Regions from separate parts of the Homo sapiens genome. Here region 2 is linked to region 1. The links come from fine-mapping of genetic effects on gene expression. Tissue or cell type: left ventricle. Region 1 holds a variant in brackets; the other region holds the start of a gene. All regions are shown on one strand. Distances are from middle to middle.

Region 1 (8,100 bases):
AGATTTGGCCAGTTAAATACGAGCAAAAGGAATGTATGACATTTCCAGGCCTAGCCATAAAATGTCTTGCACATGTGTCCATGCTGCCTCTCTCTTTCACATATGCAGGGCTTCAACTGAAGGACTCTAAGATGGTGAAACCACATGATGGAAGGAGCTGGGATCCCTGAATCACCTTGTGGAGGAGAACTTAACTTACATCAGAATGAGGCATGAGTGAAGGATCAATTTTATTGTGTTAAGCTACTAAGATCTCAGGATTGTTTGTTATAGCAGCTGAATATCCCTGACTAGTATACCTAGCAACCAACCAAGGGAGCTGGAACTCAAATCAAGATATGTCTGGTTCCACATCTTTGAAGTCATTGTTACTCAAACTGTGGTCAGCAGGTCAGCTGCATCAAAAGCATCTGAAGTATTGGTTAATTAATATTCAGAGGGACTTCTGTGAAGATAAAGCAGGCAATATGCCAAGAAAAAGAATTCCTTCTTTGAAGTAGATGGCTTAACCTGAATAGAAAAGCCAATAAGCCCTTGCTGGGAACAAGCAAGCTAACTAGTGAAAGAAACATTTCTGGACCCAGTTGGGCACCAAGTAGAAGCCTAACAGGTAAATTGGAATGAATAAGCATATAGGCAAGCCATATTTTTAAGAAGCAGTTTGTTGAGGCAAGAAGGTAAAGTCTGAAACTTCTTTATGCTCAGACCTACATCTGCTGCTCTCACTTGACTGGAAAGAAGTAAAGGCTACAAGAGCTCACACATACCTCAGCATCATGAAGAGAATTTGTTAGTCCAAAGTATAGCTCTGGACTTGTGCACATCTCCTGTAAATAACTGGTCCAGTAAGAGTTTACCTCATTCAACAGGAAACAGCACCAGATCTATGCAGAGTTACTATATGGAAAACACAAGAAACGTATAAGCAAGAAATGGCAGATGAGGAATACTCACTAGAAAAATATCTCAGGGCAGATAAAAACCATGTACTAACATATTGCCATAAATTCAAAACATTTGATACAAAATATAAAATAATAGCTAAGGTCGGGCATGGTGGCACATGCCTGTAATCCCAGCATTTTCAGAGGCTGAGGCAGGAGGATTGCTTAAGGCCAGGAGTTTGAGACCAGCCTAGGAACATAGCAAGACCTCATCTCAATAATAATAATAGTAAATGCTATATGCAGAAATACAACAGGGCAGATAAGGTATACCAAAACAAAAGAAGAAGATGAAAATTAGTTGGAAAATCCCAAGAAAAATGTAAAAGACAAAAAGTAAAACTATCACCAAAATGAGGAAGCATGAAGAAAAAGAGACATTGGTGCAAAATATGAAAGAAAATATGGAAAATAGGATTATATAGGCAAGCAGTATTAAGTAAACAGTTTGGTGAAAGTAAGATTAGAGAAGAAATGGTAGATGCAGGAGGCACAGAATGATTTCTTCGATGAAGAGAACCAAAATAATCCAACAGAAGAAAAAGTTATAATTTTTTCTTTTTCTTTTTTCTTTTTTTTTTATTGTTACTATACTTTAAGTTTTAGGGTACATGTGCACAACGTGCAGGTTTGTTACATATGTATACATGTGCCATGTTGGTGTGCTGCACCCATTAACTGGTCATTTAGCATTAGGTATATCTCCTAATGCTATCCCTCCCCCCTCCCTCCACCCCACAACAGTCCCCAGAGTGTGATGTTCCCCTTCCTGTGTCCATGTGTTCTCATTGTTCAATTCCCAGCTATGAGTGAGAACATGTGGTGTTTGGTTTTTTGTCCTTGCGATAGTTTGCTGAGAATGATGGTTTCCAGCTTCATCCATGTCCCTACAAAGGACATGAACTCATCCTTTTTTATGGCTGCATAGTATTCCATGGTGTATATGTGCCACATTTTCTTAATCCAGTCTATCATTGATGGACATTTGGGTTGGTTCCAAGTCTTTGCTATTGTGAATAGTGCCGCAATAAACATACGTGTGCATGTGTCTTTATAGCAGCATGATTTATAATCATTTGGGTATATACCCAGTAATGGGATGGCTGGGTCAAATGGTATTTCTAGTTCTAGATCCCTGAGGAATCGCCACACCGATTTCCACAATGGTTGAACTAGTTTACAGTCCCACCAACAGTGTAAAAGTGTTCCTATTTCTCCACATCCTCTCCAGCACCTGTTGTTTCCTGACTTTTTTTTTTTTTTTTTGAGGTGAAGTCTCAGTCTGTCACCCAGGCTGGAGTGCAGTGGCACCATCTCGGCTCACTGCAACCTCTGCTTCCCGGGTTGAATCGATTCTCCTGCCTCAGCCTCCTGAGTAGCTGGGATTACAGGCACGCGTCACCACGCCCAGCCAGCTGATTTTTGTATTTTTTGTAGAGACGGGGTTTCACCATGTTGGTCAGGCTGGTCTTGAACTCCTGATCTCGTGATCCACCCGCCTCGGCCTCCCAAAGTGCTGGGATTACAGGCGTGAGTCACCGCGCCCAGCCAAGTTATAATTTTTTAAGTGTTGCAGAAATTAAAGAAGACTGGAGTCTGTGGTCATAAAGGACACATCAAGTCCCAGGAAAAATTGGGACTTGCTACTGGGCACATAGTAGACTCTCAGTAATACTTGTTGATTTTTAATTAAGACATTTCACAGTGAGGATTGCACACAGCCTCTCTGTGCCTCATTCTTCCTCCTCTATACTCACCTGTGTATACCATTAGCTGCAGCTGTAATGAAGGCTTAAGCTAGCTGCTTATTACCTGAGGCACATGGAAGCTTGGCTAATCTCCCAGCATTCCAGAAGCAGAGGTGGAAATCAGGAGGACTGACAGGCTCTAACAAGTCCACAAAGATATGTGTACAAGGAATTTTTAGTATGGTTTACGATAGTGAAGAAATGGAAACTTAAATGTCCATCAGTCTGGGGCTAGCTAAAGAAAGTATTGCACATTCATACACTGAGTACTAAGGATAATTACACAGAAACATATTCATGAAATATCATTGAGTGGAAAAAGCAGATTATAACAGAAGATATATAGTTTAGTCTAATTTCTTATTAAAAACTAATTGTATAGGGGGAAAGCCTCTAAGAACCTAACCCAAGT[A/G]TTAGACATTGGTTATCTCCTTGTGGTAGTGAATAGGTTGTTTTATTACTATTGGCGGTGGTGTTAACTTTTGTTTTTCCTGTCTAATTGCACTTTCTGATCTTTCTTTTTTTTCTTTTTCTTTTTTTTTTTTTTTTTTTTTGAGACGGAGTCTCGCTCTGTCGCCCAGGCTGGAGTGCAGTGGCGTGATCTCGGCTCACTGCAAGCTCCGCCTCCGGGTTCACGCCATTCTCCTGCCTCAGCCTCCCGAGTAGCTGGGACTACAGGCGCCCGCCACCACGCCAGGCTAATTTTTTGTATTTTTAGTAGAGACGGGGTTTCACCCTGTTAGCCAGAATGGTCTCGATCTCCTGACCTCGTGATCTGCCTGCCTCGGCCTCCCAAAGTGCTGGAATTACAGGTGTGAGCCACCGCGCCCGGCCCACTTTCTGATCTTTCTACAATGAGCTGTATTGTTTGATCAGTTCATTTTTAAAAAGATACTTTAAAAACAAAAGAAGAAAAACTACCTAACCATACTTATACCACTACCTCCAAGCCCCACTGTACTGGAAACACATTCTTATTCTGCTTTTTCATCAAAGTATTTTGTTTGTATGGAATTATTTGGTTCATATTAAGAGAAAAACTGGTGTCAAATCCAATCTTTGAAAAGGTTATATAATTATATAGCAACTCTGTGCAGAGCATTCACCATTTTATCTTCCTTTCCCAGCATTCTTGTAGTTGATCCAGTCCACTGAAGAACTAGAAGATTCAACAGGGCAAGTGTGGTCTCTCCAGTTGGACTCCAAAAGAGTGGGGCATTTGCTATCTGCTTAAAATGAGGAAGTATCTATCAGTTGAAATTAAATCGTCTTCCAACTTGAATCATCCTTTGCCTTCATTTTCTCCTTCAAAAGTTGCAATTTTAAAATGTGAATATCCTTATTACTGTTTTGGTTATAATAGTAATACATATTTATTGCAAAAAAAATTTGAGAAATACAGAGAAAAGAGTAAGTTTCCATAATTCTAGCAACCAGAAATAAACATCATTAACATCTTGATGTACCTCCCTTCAATTTTTTTCTATATATGTATTACAAGTTTTCCAAAGTCTGTTCTGTGAAACAATAGTTCTGTTTTAATAAAAGTCACAAAACAGTGAGGGCCCTGTGGTCAGTTATGTTTGGGAAATGCTGGATTAAACAAATTTAAAGCTATCTTTCTTTGCTCAAGGACTTCTAAGAACTTTTAACAGGCTAATACTAATCTCCACAAGGGAGTATAATATATAGCATTTCCCAAACTAATTTAAACATGAGCTTTTTTTTTTAATGTAGTGGAGATGACATAAGTCATTTAATGACCTCTCCATATAATAATTATTTAAGGTATTTCTATTTATTGACTATTATAAATGTAATACAGGTAATATTATTAAAAATTATTGGCTGGGTGCGGTGGCTCATGCCTGTAATCCCAACATTTTGGGAGGCCGAGGCGGGTGGATCACCTGAGGTCAGGAGTTCGAGACCAGCCTGGCCAACATGGTGAAACCCCATCTCTACTAAAAATGCAAAAATTAGCTGGCCATGGTGGTGAGCCCCTGTGATCCCAGCTACCCAGGAGGCTGAGGTGGGAGACTTGCTAGAATCCGGGAGGTGGAGGCTGCAGTGAGCTGAGATAGTGCCATTGCACTCCAGCCTGGGTGATAGAGCAAGACCCCGTCACAAAAAAATATATATTAATTTGCTTTTCCTTTTTGCTGTTCTGAGTTTGAAATCATTCATTCAACAGACACTTGTTGATCACCTACTGTGAGCCAGACACTGAACAGGTAACAAACAGACGGGGTCTTGCTCTGTCACCCAGGCTGGAGTGCAATGGTGCTATCTAACCCCAGCTCTTGTGGAGCCACCATGCTAATGTGAAGATTCAGAGAAACCAGATTAAGCGAGGGGCAGAGTAGATATTGTGAGCCATTGAAAGGATTTAGGCTCTTCCTGGGGGCCATAGTGGGGGCCAACAGAAGGTTTAGATCGGAGGAGGGATGTGAAGGGAGAGCAGATGGGATTTGATTAGGATTTGGATGAGATGAGAGAGAGAGTGAGGCTTCAAGCATGCCTCCGAGGTTTTTGGCCCAAGCAGATGAAAGAATGGGGTTGTCATTTATTGAGCTAGAGAAAACTGCAGGAGGTTAGGAATTTACTACAGAGAAAATGCAAAGAGAAAGAAAAACTGAAGTGAAATTCTAATTGATGCTGAGGTGAGATCCAGTGGGCTGCCACATGGCCTGTCATGTGGCCTGCTGTGGCAAGCCAAGGTGAACTCAGAAAAGACTTGGAGTTTTGCTTAAGTCCAATGTTTCCTTTTTGACTGTCTTTCTGGATGATGCGTCCACTGTTGAGAATGGGGTGTTGAAGTCCCCGTGTTGCTGTCAATTTCTCCCTTGTCTTCTGTAAATATTTGCTTTATATATTTAGCTGCTCCAATGTTGGGTACATACATATATATATTTACAGTTGTTATGTCTTCTTGATGGATTGACCCCATGAAAGGAAAATAAATCGCCCCCAAATGACCAAGCGAAAGGGAAAAGTCAAGCTGGGAAGTGCATTGGGCAAACCTGCCTCCTATTCTATTCCTAAATAAGATAACTACAAAGATTTTTTTTTAAAGCTACATACCTTCCTCACAATTTGCCCATGAAGAAATTCCTTGTAAACAAAGGACAGGCAGAACTCAAAGTCATCCCTCTGCTCACATGAGACAAATGCATATCTGATTGCTTCCTTTGCCCTATTGTTTCACAAAGTCAGACTAAAGCATAAGTGACTCTTCCTGCTCTCACATGTAAATTGTGTATTCAGTGAAAGGCTAATCAGCAACTCAAAAGAATGCAACCATTTTTCTCTTATCTAACTATGACCTGGAAGCCCCCTCCCCACTTCAAGTTGTCCCACCTTTCTGGACCAAACCATTGCATATCTTACATATATTGATTGATGTCTCATGTCTCCCTAAAATGTATAAAACCAAGCCTTGGGCACATGGCATCAGGACCTCCTAAGGCTGTGTCATGGGCATGTCCTTAACCTTGGCAAAATAAACTTTCTAAATTCACTGAGACCTGTCTGAGATATTTGAGGTACACATTTGGTGACCACAAAGAGACTCTGAGTGGAGGTGGCCCTGACCTTTGACAAATCTCCTATCAGTACTTGGTACCAACTCGAGCTATCTTTATGGCTCAAACCAATAGAACAATTTGCTGAGGCCTGGGAGCTCCCCTCCCTCCAGAGAATCCCTCATCTCCCAAAATTTGGTTGAGATCTAAAGTTTATTTTGCTGTACAACTCCTTTTCTGGAGTTTTGCTTGCTTCCAACAAGGAAGGCAAGTTTTCCTGCTTCCATGACAATGAAAGGCAAATAACTGCATTCTGGAATTTGAGCTCACTTCCAACAGGGAAGGTGAGTTTGAGTTTTTTCCTACTTCTGGGATGGTAGAGAGCAGTCTTCAGCCTGAGACCCACTCCTAGGTAAGTAGCTGAATTGGAGTTTTCTCTTGGCTAAAGTTATGATTCACAGTCGGCTGGTCTTAATTTCTCCTTACCATTAGAGGACTCAGTAATCATATTGTTGGGGTTCTTTTGTTGTTTGTTCCAGTCTTTCTCCCATCAGATTTGGCCAATTCTACCTGACTTGGTCAAATTTGAATGAGAATTCCAAATAGTGAGTAACAAGGTATCTCTGAATTGGCTAAAATTCCTCGCAGCTGCAAAAGAGAAAAAAATGACCAAACATGCAGTTGGTTTGTGTGTTTGCTCCCTGTCTTAAAAAAATAACTGTTCTTTCGTTTACTTTTCTTCCACCCTATTCCTCCTTCTCCCCTCGCCATCTTTGGTACCAAGAAGAATATAAAGAAGGCATCTAATGACTCTAACCCTTTAAAGAACTCAGGACAAAGGCACCGTTCACTCCTTTGGGGCTGTTCTGTTTTCTTTGTGGAGTTTCAAGAGTCATGGGCAGATTCTTCTTAGGTGTAAAGCTCTGCTCTCCTGTATTGCATTACCTGACCTCTTTGGCTTCTGGGGGTGAAGTGGCTACATTGTCTGGGGTATACACCCTGGGGTTCGTTGTCATGCACCAGGAAAATTTAGGACATGGACACACACAAGTCTAGGAGCAGAGGTTTAATGAGCAGAAGAGAAGAGAAAGAGAAGCAGCTTTCTCTATAGAGAAAGGGGTCTCCCGGTGGAAAGGACCAGCGGGTGGTGGATGCGCCAAATTTTAGTCAGGTTTGAGGAGGTGGTGTCTGATTTACATAGGGCTGACAGATTGGTTCGATCAGGTATGACGTTTACATAGTGCGGGGGAAGGCTGGTGGCCCCAGCTGAATATTATTATGCAAATGGACTTTCCAGTTGATTGGAGCCATCTTGCCTCTCTATGTCTGCAGCTGAACTTTACAGGCTGCTCTTTGTTAGAAAATCATTTGAGGCTGCTTTTCATTAAAAAGAAAAACTTTACTGAGGATCCCCATACCCTTACTGTCTGCCTAAGTGATTTCTTCTTAAGTCCTGTATCAGGGGTACCAGAGATTACCTTGTCCTGTGAGAGGATTTGACCTTGGCATGTGTAATAGCAGACAAGAGCTACAGTTAAAGGTGGCCGAGGACAGTTTACAGAAAGTGGTCTTGGCTGGGCTTTTTTCCTCCTAGGAGGTTGTTTAGGATCTCAATTCTAATTCAGAGGTGCATTTTAAAGAGTCTTCTCCATTGCCTTTCCTGCCCAAATTAATCTCCATTGGCTTGTCTGCATATTTGCATGAGGAACTGCACTGTCACTTTCATAGATAAATGAGAGACTGAGTTTCCTCAACCCCAAAGAGAAAGGGCATTTTGCTCCTCCCAGTCAAAAGGTGCTCCTGGGTGACTGGAGGCCAAGTGGGAGTGTCTGGGGGTTGCCTCCATGTGATGTGCAGTAGCCCTACAGGGAATTGCCAACAAAA
Region 2 (8,100 bases), 360 kb after region 1:
CCTTCTCCACAAACCCTTCCCTGCGCCCCCAGACCAACACTTGCCCTCCTGGGGGATGGCACTGCATCTACGAGGCAAGCAGGATGAGAGCACTGCAGTCCCCCGACTCCTACCTATTCAACACGTACCTGAGTGCCCAGAAGTTCATCTCCCCCTTCATGCCAAGCTACCCCCAGATCCCCAATGGAAGCAGCTTCAGCCCCCGGGCCCATGGGTAGGAGGGGAAGGATGGGAAGTAGTGAGCCAAGGAGAGGGCAGGGGCAAGTGGGTCTGTCCCAGGCATAGGGAGGCTTGAGGGGCAAGGCATTTGCTCCCTTGTTCATTCAACAGAGGACCCAGCAATGCTGGCTCAGCCCCAGGCCTGCTCTCGTGGCAGGGAGACTCCACAATAGGTCTGTTCTCTGTCCCCAGAGCCATACGAAGCTGGCAATTCAGTCCACAGTGGGAACTGGCAATGGTGAGGGTGGGCGGCCAAGGGGCGACCCGAGGAGCAGGGCCAGGCGCCTGGGACCCAGCCAGGGAAATCTCCCTCCCTGCACCAGCCGTGTCCTCTCCTGTCCTGTCCTCAGAGCTCTCCCGTGTGTTCCCACCAGCCTTGTCCCATATCTGAGACTGTCCCCACCCCCACATGCCCAGGGCTCTGGGGGCCACCTTCTTCAAGCTGCCGCTGCGCGTGCCAATGAAGACCACAGAGTGCTGGCGGTAGGTGTAGGCGGCCACGCTGGCCATGCCGTCGGTGCTGTCGGCCAGCAGGGGCAGCCCCTCGATCACATGCAGGCCTCCCAGAGGCTGGTTCAACACCAGCCCACAGAAGTTGCCGTTGATCTGCATGGGCTGGTGAAACAGAGGAGGAACCCGTGAGAGTCAAAGCTCCCAGGCGCAAGATGGAGGCCGGCAGTTCCTGTGTCCCAGAAGAGAGCGGGATCTAGAACCCGGTCCCCTCCAGCCAGGACTGACTGCTCGCCCTAGGGTGCTCCAGGAAATTGGTGGCTGCGGAGGGAGACAGAGGAGGGACAGCAGGGAGCGAGGAGCGAAGCCTGGGCCCACAAGACTCTTGTTGGCTCAAGACAAGGGGCAACCGGGAGACGGAGCAAGGAGGAACGAGCTGGGAACGGAAGGAAGCAGAAGTGGGGCACTGGGCAGCCCAGAGAGAGGCAAGGAGAGGGCAGGGACCCCTGGGAGGGAGAAACAGGTGGGAGGGCAAAGGTGCCACTCCCAGGGCCATGGCAAAGCCTGGGACAGGATGACTGGCCGTGAGCCCACGCTGGGCATGGTAGACCTGGGACAGGGCAGAGGACCAGTGTGGGGTGATGAGGGGCTCACGGTGTTGATGCAGGGCAGCTCCTTGTTCAGCAGCCAGGGCAGAGCCAGAGTGCCCTCCCCACGATAGCAGGACTGGATGCGGCGCCGGATGTGGGCATTGATGTTGCTGAGGGTGAAGAGGCAGAGGATGGTCTGCCGGGGTGGGCTGGCCCGGTTCTTCTGGCCCTGAGAGAAGATGGTGAAGAGGACGTCCTCATCAGCCGGCACGCCCAGGGCCTGGGCCAGCAGCAGGCCAGGCTTGGCCAGGTGGGCGCTCTGCACCAAGCGGTACTCCACGCCGCGCCAGGAGCAGCCGATGGGGAATTCCACGTATGAGTAGAACTCTGAGTCTCCCGCGCACATGCGCACGATCTTGGACGTGAAAAATTTCTCGCCCGCTGTGTCCAACAGCGTCTGCTGGGTGTCCAGCTGCAGCGTCAGGAAGTACACGAAGGAGGCGCTGACGAAGCCGTAGATGTAGTAGATGTCAAAGGCAGGGTACAAGGACAGCGTGTCTGAGGGGATCTTGATCTGGGAGGACACAAACTCATCCTGGTACACCTGGGGAGCAGGGGGAGGAGACAGCATCCGGTGAGGCCCTGTGCCAACATCACGGGCCACCGCCAGCTTCCCTCTGCATCCCCCTCCCGCCTGGATGATCACAGAGGCCCAGGCCAGAAAGGCTGCAGAGGGCAGGGTGACCAGCCTCCCTGCACACAGGGGACCCCCGCAACCTGGGTTCAGGCTGTCATCCCACCCTCCGCAACCTGTCTGCATCCCAGACACTGAGGAGCCGAAAGTCCCCTCTCAGAAAGAACAGGGCTCTTCTGGGAGGCAGAGCCAGGACTGGGTGGAGGAAGAAGAGAAGGAAGGCTCACGCACGAGACTGAACATGTCCGCGCTGTCTTCATCACTGATGAGCTTGCGGGAGCTCAAGGTGGGGAAGTACTCCGACTTGCCGTCGACAGCAGTGCCCACAAACAGCTTGCTGGGCCCCTGGCCCTGCTCCACAATGACACCAGCCATGGAGTCGGGCTCCTGGGCCCCCGACAGGTAGTGCTCCTTGCGGTGGTGCGGCTCACCCAGCTTGAAGAGGTCGTCCAGACGCAGGAACTGGCAGATGCCCTGCCAGATGCTGCCGCAGGCCACCAGGCGGCGGGCCGCATAGTCTATGAGCAGCAGCTTGTTGATGTTGTCCACGGGGGCCAGGCGGTGGGCACACACGCGCATGCTGGGGGGCGGGTAGCAGCGAGCGTTGTCCTCGACGGGCCCCGTGACATGGGCCCGCAGCTCAGTCAGGTTGGGGGCCAGCTTAAAGACTCGGTTCACTGCGCCCACGAACACCTCCCCAGTCACCCGGTGCACAGCCAGGTGGGTAAGCGTGGTGTCTGTCACCACGAAGGCACGGAAGGGCCTGTTGCCCAGGGCCCCCCCCACGGCAAGGAAGAGCAGCAGGAGGAGGCAGACAGAGGGCATGGCCGGCAGCCGCGCCTGGGGACAGGCCTAGGGAGAGACGGTGTGTGGGAGTCAGAGGCCTCGAGCCACAGAGGGCTGGGCCATTCACCCACCACCCCGCCAAAGCCCCAGATGGCCACCGTGACAGGGAGAGAGGAGGGGCCTCCGCCAGGGCGCATGAGTGAGCAGCCAGCGAGGGCAGGCTTGGGGGCCATCAATCGTCCCTCAGCCCCCATGCTGGAAAGGAGCCAGGAGGCCTCGCCTCAGCTGGGCCACACCCAAGGGGGTAGCAGAGCAGATGCTGGAACTGGGACCCCAGATGCCACATCTCAGAGCCCGGGGCAACCAACAGCAAAGAACAGCAAGCCCCAGGCCTCTGGGCTGCCCCCAACGCCTGAGCTGAGGGGAGAGGGAGGCAGGCACAGAATAATCGCAAGCTGGGGGAGAGGGGCAGGGCCAGGAACACCACCTGGAGTGGCACTGCCACCAGGAGCCCTGGGACAGAGGTCTGGGGAATGGAGGCCTGATGCAGGATCCAGCACCACCATGTCCCCTGCAGGGGCCCCAGCTGCCTCCCCGACAAGGGCCTCAGCTGGCCATCCAGGAGCCCGCTGTCTGGCCTCCCCGATGCAACACAAAGCCAAGTCGCGCCTGCCCCTCAGCCACGCACCCAGACACACATCAGTCAAGCTCTGCTCAGCCACAGCCTGCATGGCTCCCCCTCCAGACCCAGGGGTTCACTGGAGAAGGGAATGTACAGGGGGCCCTACCTGCCCTTTGGAGTCCCAGGAGCCTTACAAGAGGAGGAGCAATGTCCCCAAATACAGTCAAGGCCTTGGAGAGACAGGGCAGGAGCCACAGGGACAGTGCTGGGACTGGCACTTAGTCCCCAGGCCACACCCAGTCAGCCCCAGGCTGCTAAGACAGCAGAGCAGTGTCGTGGCAGCCAACAGGGCAGGGCTCAGCGCTACCCTCTCAGTGCCAGAGCTCCCGGGGGAGATAGGAGGTACCCAGCTTGAGGGCGGGAGGCGGGGGGGGAGCGGGGGGTGGTGCAGGGAACCAAACCAAGGAGGCACAGGAGAGAGAAAGGAAAAATAAGGCATTTGCCAGGAACAAGCAGCGGGCCCAGCTTGAAACTGCAAAGTTTCAGCTCAGATTGATCACCTCTCCAGGGCTCTTTTGTCAGCTGGACCCCTCATGCAACAGCCGGAGAAGAAAGGAAGGCCAAAGAAAAGAGAGGCCACATCCTGTCTTCACCTCCTCTACACCCCGGGAACACAAGCCTAGGAACAGGCTGGGGACAGGTCGGGAGGGAGACCTGGGGAGGCAGTTTCAGGCCCAGCCCCCACCTGTAAGTGGCAACCTCGGGCATCACAGGTACAGCTGGGCCAGCAGAGAGCCTGAGGAAGGGGCAGCCCCACGCAGAGACGGGGGTCCAGCGGCCGCCCCCCACACCCCCCACCGTGCTGCTGGTCCGGTTTGCCCGGGCCCCATCAGGGCACCCCTCGGCGGACTCGCGGAGCCCTTAGCGGGAGGGAAGTACAGCGTTGATCCTCCGAGGGGCCGCTCCCCTGCGACAAAGGGTCCTCTTTGGGCAGGGTGTTGGTCTTGGGTTGGCGTCCCCACCATGCGGGGCACAAGGAGTCGGGCAGGCCGGCGCCGACGGGCAGGGATAGGGCCTGACCCCCACAGGCCGAGCCGGACCCCCGGGCTGCCGGAGCCCCGGGCCCCGAGCTGTTTGGCCCCGCACGGACGGCGACGATGACGGCCACCTACCTGTCCCTCCGCTGGCTCCGGGTGGCCGCCCTCTGGCCACGTGGACGCGCCCCCGAGCCCCACCGCGGCCCCGCTCGCACGTCCCCACGGCCTCGCCCCGCGCCCCGGGCCCCAAGCGCGCAGCCGCCGCCGCCGCCGCCCACACACTGGGCTGGCCCGGGGGCCGCCGGAGCCTTTTAAACCCGGACCGTACCACCGCGCGGGGCGGGGGCGTCCGGGGACGCCCGGCCGAGGGGGACGCGGCGGCAGGGGACGCAGGCGGGGCCGCTGCTCCCCGGGGCCAGGGACCTCGCGCGCAGCCCTGACCCCCGCGACCTGAAGGGGGACCCGCCCGGCCAGCCGACCCCCTTCGCTCGATGGCCGCGTCCGCGGCGCGCGCCTCCCCCGCGCCCCGGCTCCCCGCCCGCCGCCTCGGGCGACCCCGGAACCCGCGCGCGCCCGCGCCACACCCCCTCGGGCCTGGGGCGCGCGTCCGCCTCGCCCCACCCTGGCGCTCGGAGACGCGCCCGGGGTCACCTGCCACCGGGGCGCGGCCTCGCTGGTCCCGGCCTCTCAGGTGCACCCCCGCCGAGGAGTCGCGTCCCCAGCTCAAGACACGCCCCCGACGGTCTCTAACCCGGAGGGCCTGCGGGACAGCCGTCCAAACCAGCCCCTTCCCCGGCGACCCTGAACCGAGGGCTTTCTTCCTTCCCTTGCTTTCTTTTTCCTTTTCTTTTTTTGTTTTCTTTTGACACAGGGTCTCGCTCTGTCACCCGGGCTGGAGTGCAGTGGTGAGATCATAGCTCACTGCAGCCTCGACCGCCCCAGGCTCAAACGATGCTCCCGCCTCAGCCTCCCAAAGTGCTGGGACTACAGGTGTGAGCCACCGCGCCCCGTTAAGGTTTTCTTTTTCATTTCCCTGATGACTAATGGTGTTCAGCATCTTTTCATGTGCTTGCTGGCCTTTTGTATATGATCTCTGAAGAAATGTCTATTCAAGTCATTTGCCCATTTTTATTAAACACATATATGGAGAGATAGATAGATAGACAGATTTTTCCCCCCAAGTTGAGGTCGCGCTCTATCACCCAGGCTGCAGTGTAGCGGCATTGGATCATGGCTCACTGCAGCCTCGACTTCCTGGGCTCAAGGGATCCTCCTGCCTCAGCCTCCCAGGTAGCTGGGACCACAGGCAAGTGCCACCACGCCTGGCTAACTTTTCCTATTCTTGTAGAGAGAGACAGGGTCTTGCTACACTGCCCAGGCTAGTCTTGAACTCCTGGGCTTAAGTAATCCTCCTGCCTCAGCCTTCCAAAGTACTGGCATATGCTGGGTGCAGTGACTCAAGCCTGTAATCCCAGCATTTTGGAAGGCTGAAGTGAGCGGATCACCTGAGGTCAGGAGTTCGAGACCAGCCTGGCCAACATGGCAAAACCCCATCTCTACAAAAAATACAAAAATTAGCCGGACATGGTGTCATATGCCTGTAGTCCCAGCTACTCAGGAGGCTGAAGCAGGAGAATTTTTTTTTTTTTTTTTTTTTTTTTTAGACAAAGTCTTGCTCTGTCGCCAAGGCTGGAGTGCAGTGGTGTGACCTCGGCTCACTGCAAGCTCCGCCTCCCGGGTTCACGCCATTCTCCTGTCTCAGCCTCCCAAGTAGCTGGGACTACAGGCACTCGCCACCACGCCCGGCTAATTTTTTTGTATTTTTGGTAGAGACGAGGTTTCACCGTGTTAGCCAGGATGGTCTCGATCTCCTGACCTTGTGATCCGCCCATCTCGGCCTCCCAAAGTGCTGGGATTACAGGCGTGAGCCACCGCGCCCGGCCGAGAATCTCTTGAACCTGGGAGGGGGAGGTTGCAGTGAGCCAAGATCGTGCCATTGCACTCCAGCCTGGGAGATAGAGCAAGACTCTGTCTAAAAAAAAAAAAGCACTGAGATTATAGGCATGAGCCACCATGCCTGGCCCTCAACTGACTTTAAGTAAAAGAGATCACCCTTGATAATGTGTGTGGGCCTCATCCATTTAGTTGGATGGCTTTAAGAGCAAAACCCGAGGTTTCCTGGAGAAGCAGAAATTCTGCCTCAAGACTGTAACACAGGCCAGGCGCGGTGGCTCATGTCTGTCATCCCAGCACTTTGGGAGGCCAAGGCAGGCGGATCGCCTGAGGTCAGGAGTTCGAGACCAGCCTGACCAACGTGATGAAACCCCGTCTCTACTAAAAATACAAAAATTAGTTGGGCATGGTGGCGGGCATCTGTAATCCCAGCTACTCGGGAAGCTGAGGCAGGAGAATCGCTTGAACCCAGGAGGCAGTGGTTGCAGTGAGCTGATATCATGCCACTGCACTCCAGCCTGGGCGACAAGAGTGAGACTCCATCTCAACAACAACAACAACAAGACTGTAACACAGAAATTCTCCGAGTTTCCAGCCCGTCAGTCTGTCCTACAAATTTCACACCAACTTGTCAGCCCCGACAATTGGGTGAACCAAATCCTTAAAATAAACTGTGTGTGTGTGTGTCCTGTTGGTTCTGTTTCTCTGGAGAACCATGACTAATACAGATGTCTTTCCATTTATTTAGGTCTTCTTGAATTTCTTTCAATGATGTTTTGTACTTTTCAGTGTACAAATCTCATGCTTCTTTTAAAAAAATCTATTAATAAGTATTTTATTCTTTTTTGACACTGTTATAAATGGAATTATTTTCTTAATTTCATTTTGGATTGTGTATAGAAATACAATTGATTGGCCAGGTGTGGTGGCTCATGCCTGCAATTCAAGCACTTTGGGAGGCAGAGGTGGGCGGATCACTTGAGATCAGGAATTCGAGACCAGCCTGGCCAAGATGACAAAACCCCGTCTCTACTAAAAATACGAAAATTGGCCAGGCATGGTGGCGGGCACCTGTAATCCCAGTTACTTGGGAGGCTGAGGAGGGGGGCAATCGCTTGAACCCAAGAGGCAGAGGTTGCAGTGAGCCAAGATCATGCCATTGCACTCCAGCCTAGGCAACAGAGAGCAAGACTCTATCTCAAAAAACTTTTAAAAATTGATTTTTGTATAATGATCTTTTTGGAGACAATGTCTCACTTTGTCACCCAGGCTGGAGTGCAGTGGTATGAACACCACTCACTGCAGCCTCGTCTTCCCAGGCTCAAGCAATCTTCCCACCTCAGCCTCCCAAGTAGCTAGGACTACAGGTGCATGCCACCACGCCAGGCTAATTTTTGAATTTTTTGTAGAGACAGGGTTTCACCGTGTTGCCCAGGCTGGTCTCCACCTCCTGGGCTCAAGTGATCCGCCCACCTAAGCCTCCCAAGTAGCTGGGACTACAGGCGTGTGCCACCACACCCAGCTAATCTTTGTATTTGCTATACACACAGAGTCTCACTATGTTGCCCAGCTGGTCTCGAACTCCTGGGCTCAAACAATCCACCTGCCTAGGCCTCCCAAAGTGCTGGGATTACAGGCGTGAGCCACTGTGCCTGGCCTTAGTCCCATCTTTGTCATCTCATCCATTGGCTTGACCAGACGAGCAGGTGTTACCCTTTGATTCCCTTGGCGATCTTTCTAGTTCCAGAG

What was found. PIP is the estimated chance that this variant, and not a neighbour inherited with it, causes the effect.
Region 2: it holds the start of PLXNA3, and the variant in region 1 is fine-mapped to the expression of PLXNA3 in left ventricle (GTEx, PIP 0.95).

What each region holds. Positions count from the first base shown.
Region 1 is chrX:154,819,502-154,827,601 of GRCh38, reverse strand. SMIM9 (small integral membrane protein 9) reads left to right here. Exons shown (of 5, transcript NM_001162936.4): 5 at 3,820-4,254. The coding sequence ends at 3,847. Among named protein-coding and RNA genes, the nearest start is that of SMIM9, 11 kb to the left of the region's middle. The variant A/G (reference allele first, on the strand shown) is at 3,105.
Region 2 is chrX:154,454,862-154,462,961 of GRCh38, reverse strand. It overlaps PLXNA3 (plexin A3), which reads right to left and starts at 4,681. Exons shown (of 33, transcript NM_017514.5): 1 at 4,534-4,681; 2 at 2,185-2,805; 3 at 1,324-1,863; 4 at 652-834. The coding sequence starts at 2,778. RefSeq lists enhancers at 3,226-3,778, 5,204-5,273 and silencers at 4,264-4,333, 4,574-4,813, 4,944-5,113.